Linked DNA regions of Homo sapiens. The protein of the gene in region 1 interacts with the protein of each later gene in a pairwise test. Each region holds a gene or a part of one and is shown on either strand. Other genes may lie near its edges.

Evidence for each region.
Region 2: the proteins of GMFG (region 1) and VANGL1 interact in a two-hybrid assay, tested with the Homo sapiens proteins (one large-scale study listed by BioGRID and IntAct).

The regions. Positions count from the first base shown.
Region 1 is NC_000019.10:39,332,336-39,338,217, reverse strand, and holds the start of GMFG (glia maturation factor gamma), read left to right. Parts: upstream 1-2,174; 5' UTR 2,175-2,241; coding exon 2,242-2,244; intron 2,245-2,663; exon of another isoform or gene 2,664-2,686; coding exon 2,687-2,783; intron 2,784-2,907; coding exon 2,908-2,957; intron 2,958-5,091; coding exon 5,092-5,141; intron 5,142-5,882.
Region 2 is NC_000001.11:115,682,470-115,686,982, reverse strand, and holds part of VANGL1 (vang-like protein 1), read right to left. Parts: coding exon 4,486-4,513; intron 3,040-4,485; coding exon 2,907-3,039; intron 1,691-2,906; coding exon 1,456-1,690; intron 1-1,455.

The DNA.
Region 1 (5,882 bases):
GGGTTCACGCCATTCTCCTGCCTCATCCTCCTGAGTAACTGGGACTACAGGCACCTGCCACCACGCCCGGCTAATTTTTTGTATTTTTAGTAGAGACGGGGTTTCACCTTGTTAGCCAGGATGGTCTCGATCTCCTGACCTCGTGATCCACCCGCCTTGGCCTCCCAAAGTGCTGGGATTACAGGCATGAGCCACCACGCCCGGCCTCTTTTGAGAAATCTTGCAGAAAAGGGAAGGAAATGAGTGAGCAGCAGCTGGACAGGAGATACAGTTTTATGTTTTTAAGATGGAAGAGGCCAGACACAGTGACTCACGCCTGTAATCCCTGCACACCAGGAGGCTGAGGCAGGAGGATCGCTTGAGGCCAGGAGTTTGAGGCCAGCCTGGGCCACATAGCGAGATCCTGTCTCTATAAAAATCAAAAGTAAAATTGGCCAGGCATGGTGTTGCGTGCCTATAGTCCCAGCTACCTAGGAGGCCAAGGTGGGAAGGTGGCTTGAGCCCAGGAGTTGGAGACTGCAGTGAGCCATGATTACACCGCTGCACTCCAGCCTGGGTAACAGAATGAGACCCTGTCTCAAAATAAAAGAAAAAAAGAAAAGAAAAAAATTAAGATGGAAGAAGTAACACTGCATGGAGGCTAAGGAGAAAGATCCAGGAGGCATGGGGACGTTGGTGAGACAAGAGGGAGAGAGAGGACAGCTGCAGAGATGTAGGTGAAGGGGTAGAGTCCAGTGTAGGGTCCGGGGTTTGCCCACCATGGAGGGAAGTGGGCCAGTCACAGTTGGCCTAGGACCCTGTGGAAATTGTCTTTTGTTTGCTTTTATCTTCTCACTGAAATACATATGGTTTTTGTGTGAACTACATTCCTTTTATTTCTTCTTTATATGACAGTCAGGACATTATATTGATTTTTTTTTGAATTTATGTGTGTAAGTAGGTTATATTATCTAGGAATTTTATTTCGGGATGGGAAAAGGGGGCAGTGCAAAAATACTCAATAAAAAAAATAGCCGGGCATGGTGGCTCACAGTGGCTCACACCTGGAATCCCAGCACTTTCGGAGGCTGAGGCAGGTGGATCATTTGAGGTCAGGAGTTCGAGACCAACATGGCCAACATGGTGAAACCCCATCTCTACTAAAAATACAAAAATTAGCCGGGCGTAGTGGCACGTGCCTGTAGTCCCAGCTACTTGGGAGGCTGAGGCCGGAGAATGGCTTGAACCTGGGAGGCGGAGGTTGCAGTGAGCTGAGATCGCACCACTGCACTCCAGCCTGGGCGACAGAGTGAGACCCTGTCTCAAAAAAAAAAAATTGGGTACCGGTCTGACGGGATTGAACTCCCTTGTTGTAGGGCCTCATAGGTCATTGCAAGGCTAGTGAGGTTGGAAAAGTGCAGGAAAAAAGTCACCATTACCCAGGCACTGTGGGGTTGCCCCTCTGGTCCCCATTTTGCCATTGACATAATGGGCGTCAGTCTGACCAGCAAAAGACTAAACTCCCCTTTTCCAGCCCTGCAATTCAAATATCCCAGATGGGGGTAAATCTAGGAAGGCCACCTGGAGGAGGGGAGGAGCAAAATAGTTCGTTTTTAGTACCTATTGTGTCTGCCATGCTGGCAGCTATGTGAAGCTATTTATTTATTTATTTTTATTTATTTGTATTTTTATTGCCTGGGATAGAGTGCAATGATGTGATCTTGGCTCACTGCAACCTCTGCTGCTCGGATTCAAGCAATTCTTGTGCCTCAGACTCCCGAGTAGCTGGGATCACAGGCGTGCACCACCATGCCAGGCTAATATTTTGTATTTTTAGTAGAGATGGGGTTTTGCCATGTTGGTCAGGCTGGTCTCCAACTCCTGACCTCAGGTGATCCGCCCGCCTCGGCCTCCCAAAGTGCTGGCATTACAGGTGTGAGCCACCATGCCCGGCCGATGTGAAGCTATTTATATCCTCACCACAATCTCAAATCAGAGGGGTGAAGTTACTTAGCTAGGGTCACACAGCAAGGAAGCTTTGGAACCCTGGTCTGAGCGATTTCCTGACAGGTCCTGGCAGATGAGGGGAAGGAAGGAGGGGGAGGAGCCCTCTGTGACAGTTGTCCCAGAAAGGGCATAAACAGGATGTGGTGTTGGATGAAACCTTCCTCCTACTGCACAGCCCGCCCCCCTACAGCCCCGGTCCCCACGCCTAGAAGACAGCGGAACTAAGAAAAGAAGAGGCCTGTGGACAGAACAATCATGGTCAGGGGCCAGGGGTTCTATGGGAAGAGCTGGGGCTGGGGTTGGGGCTGGGGCTTGGAGGACACCTGGGCGAAGGTCAGGCTATGGGATGGAGGTCACGGGCCGGGAAGGGGGCCCAACTGTGGTGAACAGCCCGGCTGGAAGAACAGAGAGACAGTGGCTCTGGGTTTAGGCTCAGGAAGTGGATCTCTGCACCTCCTTGAGTGTCCCCCAAGAGTCCCCGTGGAGAAGGCGGGAACCCAGCCTCTGCTCCGCCCCCCAAGCTGAGTGCCCTGGTGAGGGGTATCTACTCTGTGGGAAGGGTGCCTTTTCTCAATGTTCACAAAGGCATCAGATGGGCCGGCGCGATGCTCCTCTTCATTAGTGGATGGAGAAACAGGTTTGGGGAAGGGGTGAGGGCTGAGGCCAGGCCATTTCAGCTCTTCCTGGGTCCCTCCGGCAGTCTGACTCCCTGGTGGTGTGCGAGGTAGACCCAGAGCTAACAGAAAAGCTGAGGAAATTCCGCTTCCGAAAAGAGACAGACAATGCAGCCATCATAAGTGAGTGACATCTTCCCCCACAGAAGGATGGGAGGGCGGTGGTGAGGGCAGATAGGGAGGGCTGGGCTTGTGTCCCCCATGGATCAGGGGGAGTGTCTAATCCCTGTGTGCCACCCCTCCCCAGTGAAGGTGGACAAAGACCGGCAGATGGTGGTGCTGGAGGAAGAATTTCAGGTGATGGGCTGGGGTGATTGGGACTGGGAGGTACAGGGTGAGACTGGGAGAACCAAGTGGTTGGAACTGATATGAAGAGCCTGGCATGGGGGTAGAAAGACCTGGAGATTGGCCGAGCACAGTGGCTCATGCCTGTAATCCCAGCACTTTGGGAGGCCGAGGCAGGTGGATCACCTGAGGTTGGGAGTTCAAGACCAGCCTGGCAAACATGGTGAAACCCCATCTGTACTAAAAATATAAAAAGTTAGCTAGGCATGGTGGTGGGCACCTGTAATCACAGCTACTTGGGAGGCCGAGGCAGGAGAATCGCTGGAACCCGGGAGATGGAGGCTGTAGTGAGCCGAGATTGTGCCACTACACTTCAGTCTGAACCACAGAGCAAGACTCTGTCTCAAAAACAAAAACAAAAAACAAAAAAACAAAAAACCCTGGAGATCAAGTTCTAGCTCACTCATGACCCCCAGCAAGAGACTTTGCCTGTTTGTGTCTCTATTTCCTCATCTGTGAAATGGGGAGAATAGTACTTATCTCATAGGCTTGTTTTTACATCCAGTGATTTAATTCTTGTAATGGGTTTAGAACAAGGCCTGGCACTTAGTATGTGCTCAATAAGGTGATGATGATCTTAATAATGATGATAATAATGCTTTATTGGCATTTAAATGAAAGAGTTTCCATATAAGTTAAAAAGCTAGCCAGGCATGGTGGCTCATGCCTGTAATCCCAGCGCTTTGGGAGGCTGAGGCAGGAGGATCACTTGAGCCCAGGAGTTTAAGACCAGCCTGGGCAACATGGTAACACCCTAACTCTACTAAAAATACAAAAATTAGCCAAGCACAGTGGTGTGCACCTGTGATCTCAGCTACACAGGAGGCTGAGGTGGGAGGGTTGCTTGAGGCTGGGAGTTTTGAGACCAACCTGGGCAACAAAGCAAGACCCCATCTCGGCTGGGTGCCGTGGCTCACGCCTGTAATCTCAGCACTTTGGGAGGCTGAGGCGGGCGGATCACAAGGTCAGGAGATCGAGACCATCCTGGCTAACATGGTGAAACCCCGTCTCTACTAAAAATTCAAAAAATTAGCTGGGTGTGGTGGCGGGTGCCTGTAGTCCCAGCTACTCGGGAGGCTGAGGCAGGAGAATGGCGTGAACCCCGGAGGCGGAGCTTGCAGTGAGCCAAGATCGTGCCACTGCACTCCAGCCTGGGCGACAGACTCTGTCTCAAAAAAAAAAAAAAAAAAAAAAAGACTCCATCTCTACAAAAAAAAAAAAGGGGGTAGACCTCACCCCCCTGGTGGCCTCACTGTCTTTATCAATAACAAGAATGATAATAAGGCTTATTTCTCTAGTGTTGCGATAAGGATTTATAAGGGAATCCATGGAGACTGGGGGCTGGGGCTCTCTCAGGCCCTCTGAAAGGCAGTATAGTGAAGCAGTTATGATTCGAACCCAGATTCAAATCTCAACTCTGCTGCTTTCTATCTGTGCAATCTTGGGCAAATGCCTTAACACCTCTGGGCCTCAGTTTTCTCAGCTGTATAGTGGGCATAATGATGGGACCTACCCCACAGACTTACGGGATAGTTGCATGAATTAATCCATGTGTGTTTCATAGAACGATGCCTTGGCACATGGTAAGTGCTCACCTAAAGGTGGTCATTCTTTTTTTTTTTTTTTTTTTTGAGACGGAGTTTCGATCTTTTTTGCTCAGGCTGGAGTGCTATGGCACAATCTTGATTCACTGCAACCTCCGCCTCCCGGGTTCAAGCAATTCTCCTGCCTCAGCCTCCTGAACACGCCTGGCTAATTTTTTTGTTGGAAATGGAGTCTCACTCTGTCTCCCAGGCTGGAGTGCAGTGGCGCGATCTCGGCTCACTGCAACCTCTGCATCCCGGATTCAAGCAATTCTCCTGCCTCAGCCTCTCGAGTAGCTGGGACTACAGGTGCATGCCACCATGCCTGGCTAATTTTCTGTATTTTTAGTAGAGACGGGTTTCACCCTGTTAGCCAGGATGGTCTGAATGATTTCCTGACCTTGTGATCCGCCTGCCTCGGCCTCCCAAAGTGCTGGGATTACAGGTGTGAGCCACTGCGCCCTGCCTCATTCTTTGTCTTTTCTTCTGTTTTCTTGCCTCAGAACATTTCCCCAGAGGAGCTCAAAATGGAGTTGCCGGAGAGACAGCCCAGGTATCCTGGGGGAAGAAAGGGTTGGATCAGGCCATGAGGGGAGGGGTGATGTTGGAGGTATAGGCTAAGGGACTGCTGGAGTTCCAGCCCTATTCATGGACTTTGAATCTCTGTGTTTGGCCGAGTGAGGTGGCTCATCCCTGTAATCCCAGCACTTTGGGAGGTCAAGGAGGGTGGATCACTTGAGGTCAGGAGTTCAAGACTAGCCTGACCAACATGGTGAAATCCCGTCTCTACTAAAAATACAAAAATTAACTGGGCGTGGTGGCATGTGACTGTAATCCCAGCTACTTGGGAGGCTGAGGCACGAGAATCGCTTGAACCTGGCAGGCAGAGGCTGCAGTGAGCTGAGATCACACCACTGCACTCCAGCCTGGGTGACACAGCGAGACTCTATCTCAAAAAAAAAAAAAAAAAAAAGAATCTCTGTGTTTGAGGCCAAGAGTTCATACTCTAGAACTTTTTGTTTGTATAGCAATATTTTATTGCAGAATTTTATACCGATTATTTATGATACCGGTTTAAGAGTCTTTTTTTTTTTTTTGTACAAACTTTGTTGAGTTTTTGTTTCAACATTACGCTGGCATCATTTTTTAAAAATGAAATTTTGGCCAGGTACTATGACTCCCACCTGTAATCTCAGCCCTTTGGGAGCCTGAGGCGGGAGGATCACCTGAGGCCAGGAGTTCGAGACTAGCCTGGGCAACATAGCAAGACCTTGTCTCTATTTTTTTTTTTTTT
Region 2 (4,513 bases), on another chromosome or scaffold:
CCACATGCCAAGCTCATCTACTCTCTACCATGCGATTTACATGCCTTGTTGCCATATTCAATGTAATTCTTACACAACAACCCTGTCAGAGAGATATTATTATTATCCTCATTGATACAACAGTAAACAAGTGTAGAGGAACTGAAAGAGTTAATTCACGTGATGTGCTTAAAACAGTACCTGTCATATGAAGAGGCCAGACTAAATTGCTATTATTATTATTGGTAAAAATAATGCTATGGCTTTGTCAGGCATTTTGGGTGTTACAGAGTCAGTTTTACCAAACGGTCTTTTAGATTACAGTATTTAGCACACTTTTAGGGATATTACAAGAAACAGCCATATATCTAATAGAGGGTAGAGTAATTTGTGCACAGTCACAAAACAATTAAGTGGTGGAGCCAGGATTTGAACCCACTTCTCTGTAGAGAAGTCATTTGCTGTATCTTTACTCTAGTTTGCCTCCTTGGCCACAACTCTCTATTAGATACATGGCTGTTTCTTGTAACACTTCTTAAAGTGTCCTAAATATCATAATCTAAAAGACCACTCAGTAAAACTAATTCTGTAACACCCAAAATGCCTGATGGCATTTTTTTTTTTTTTTTTTTTGGACGGAGTCTCGCTCTGTCGCCCAGGCTGGAGTGCAGTGGTGCGATCTTGGCTCACTGCAAGCTCTGCCTCCTGGGTTCACGCCATTCTATTTTTTACCAATAAATAGAGCTATTTAGTCCATCCTCATCATATGACAGGTACTGTTTCAAGCACTTCACATGAATTAACTGTTTCAGTTCCTCTACACTTGTTTGCTGTTGTATCAATGAGGATAATAATAATATCTCTCTGACAGGGTTGTTGTGTAAGAATTACATTGAATATGGCAACAAGGCATGTAAATCGCATGGTAGAGAGTAGATGAGCTTGGCATGTGGTACACGTGTAACATTTGGTAGCTGTTTTTTATAAGGACCTCTGTTTATATGTTGCACTATATGTGTATCCTGCTCTTTCAGTTCCCAAAACATACAAATGAGATAGTTATTAGTATTATCCTAACCAATTAACAGGTTAGGAAACTGAGGCACAGAGCTATTGCCATCTGCCCAAGGTTATGCATCTAGTTGGTGGAGGAGCCAGGTTAGAATGAATCAGTTCAGCTCCAGAGTCCACAATGCACCCCTAATCACTATTCCATACTGTCTCCAATCACTATTCCATACTGTCCTCCAAGCGAAATTCTCTCCTCTGTTAGAATCCAGAGGCCTTCGAAAGGCACATTTAAAAAAACAATTGTACTAACATAACATAAAATAAGTGAGAATCACTAATTCTTATTACTTGAGTTTTAGAGATGCCTTTCGATTTTATCACTTCTAGTAACACGCTATAATTCAACTGGCCAAGCTCAGTGACAAGCCAGGATGACGGTGGCAGAGCCCGCCCGGAGCAGCGCACCTTGGGGGTCATGCCGTTGGTGATGCAGAAGGCCAGGTGCTGCAGGATGCTCTCCATGCTGTGGTAGTTCTGCTGCCGGGTGATGCGCAGGTACTTCTGGAGAGCCCTGGCCATGGAGGGGAAAATGGCCTGGGCGGCCTCCCTAGGGTCCATCACCTCCCCTGGGGCTTTCTGCTGCTCCTCAGCCTGGAGACGCTGAATGTGGATGAAGGCCTCTTCCACTGCAACCACCAGCCTAGAAGGTGATGCAACACTAAGTAATCAGGATGGTGCCTGCCACAGGGTGTGAGAACAGAATGACGCTTGTCTACCCTGCTGCGGCCCAACCTGCCAACATACCCAAGGCCCAATCACGCTGCTTGCATCCTTAGCTGTCCCTCAGAGAGTGGAGAGGGAGGAAGGGAGAAAGAAAGGCAACAGCAAAAATAACATGTGGAACAGGGGCCCCAGGGGTTGGGGGAAAGGAGCCCCAGGACTGGGAGATGAACTCTGTTCTGAATTCTGCCACCAATGAGCTTGGGAAATGCACTAGTCCTTTTTTCATCTCTGCAATGGTTAGATGAAAAGAGTTCTGAGGCCCCTCCGACTGGCTATAAAAGGCTCTGTACAGAGAGAGGTGGCTGGTGGTGCAGAAGCAGCCCTACAAAGAAGCAGAGCTGCGTGCTCCCTGGTCCAGCCACCCACACCAGCAGCCCCTGGGAAACAGGAAGAGGCACAGCACACATGATGGAATGCACCTCTGTCCCCTTCAGTGAATATGACCTGACGGTGAACACCAGCAAGGGTCCAGGGGTGCAGAACAGACCCACTCAAGTATGGGCTGGGGGCCAGGAGCATCAGCATCACGCAGGAATCTGTTAGAAATGCCATTTCTTGGGCCCAACTCCACACCTATTGGGTAGGGTCTCTGCAAGCAGGGCCCAGAACCTGCTGCCTGTATTTGAACAGCCCTCCCAGTGATATTCATACAGGCTTCAGTTTGAGAAACACTGGAGCAAGGTGCACTCCAAAGGTGTCCCAGCAGGTCATGTTTTTAAACAGAAACCTCATTCTAGTGGTAAGAAAGGAAAGATTGAAAGTCTACAAGAGGCCGGGCATGGTGGCTCATGCCTGTAATCACAGTACTTTGGGAGGCTGAGACAGGCACATCACTCGAGGTCAGGAGTTTGAGACCAGTCTGGCCAACATAGCGAAACCCCATCTCTACTAAAAATACCAAATATTAGCCGGGCGTGGTGGTGGGCGCCTGTGATCGCAGCTATTTGGGAGGCTGAGGCATGAGAATCACTGGAACCTGGGAGGCAGAGGTGACAGTGAGCCAAGATCTTGCCACTGCACTCCAGCCTGGGCAACAGAGTGAGATTCTGTCTCTAAATAAATAAATAAATAAATAAATAAAATAAAAATTTAAAAGTCTGTAAGAGGGTACTGGCATCAGGAGGGCAGTATACCTTGCTTTCCGCTTCTTTACTCGCCGTTCATGTTCGGCCTCTTCATAATACAACTCGTTGTGGCTTGAGTCCCTGCGCCGAGCAGCTGCAGCAATCATGGCCCGGGACTGGCCAGTGGCATTGTTACTGGGGCCTTTGGGGAAAGGACAGTGAAAGAATAGTGTTAATACCACGAGGGTGGGAAACAGAGCAGAAAACTAGTACCCAATCTGTCAGTGTTGTCTACCCACCCCCTATGGAACACACACACACAAATCCTAAAGGTCACTTCCCAGGAGGGTGAACTGTGCCCCGGCTCCACATTCACTATGTCCAAAGCAAGGGAGCAGAGGAATCTCCCTAAACCCCAATCTGGTCAGTGGAAATGGAAAAAGAACTCAGAAGGGCATGAAGAACGGTGGCAATTAAAATGTTGGCCAAAAACAACACATAGAGTGTGCTGAAGATGTTACCATCTGTTACATAAAGTTTCAGTTTGGCCATAAGGGCGGCTGGGACATCAAATTTCAGCAAGACAATGAGACAGAATGAGAGGGATGGGGAGACCAAGGACAGACAGACAGACAGACAAAAAAGAAAGTCAAAGGACATGAGACACTGAGTCTACAATGGAAAGCAAGCTATGCTAGAATGTCATGGCAGCCACAACTTTTCTAGGAAATACCAATGCTTGAGGGTGTGCAACGTGACCCGTTAATGAATACAGACTCAGAAGTCCTGTCCTGTCCCCTGACCACTGACCACCTTAACTTTTCAGAAACATAGGCAGATTTCAGGCTTTCTTACGGATGATCTACTTGGCTGGTGACTTGGTTTCACTAGTGGGAATCTTTCCTAAGTTTTTAGATCACAGGTGAAATTTATCAATCCTTCAGGCTTCGTGAGGGAGCTCACACCTCATATAGCCAAAAAAAAATGAACAAACAAATAACTGAAAGGATATTGCCAACAAAAACTGACACTGTATATAAATCACTTGACTTGTTGAAAATATAATCCTCTCCTAGGGTTTGCAAAGTTCTTGCCCTCACCCAACATACCCAGGAAGAAATGACACCGCATCCTGTTTCTTGCACTTAACCATGTGATACCCTGAAACATAGCTTGGACTTACCCAGCCTGGCCTCCAGCCTCCTGCCACCCACTCAACTCCGGCTCCTAGCCACGAGTAAGAAGTGCCCGCAGGTATCTCACCAGATGCCTGGACTACTGAGATTTCTAGTCTTAATGATTTAGGTAGCTTTCTGAGTTTGTGGGTAATGTGCACCAATTTTGAAAAGCAACCCTTTCCTAACAGCTTCCAATATAAGATGATCCTGGCAGAAGGCAGGAAACACACACCGCTGCTGTTTTCAATCATAAAATCCCAAAATGAACAGGCTTCCAACACAGGTAGATGGTAAATCAACATTCCTCTAAACATGTGTCTGCCTACATAAAAAAGAGAAATTGTTCTGAAACAAGAATGTACCATAAAGGTAGGCCCAGAGAAGAAGTCGAACCAAACGTACCATGAATCTTAAATAGTCACCCAACTGTGCCCCTGTGAGCACCACGGACACCCTTTCAAGGCACATACCATCTACATTGTAGACTTTCAGCCCGGC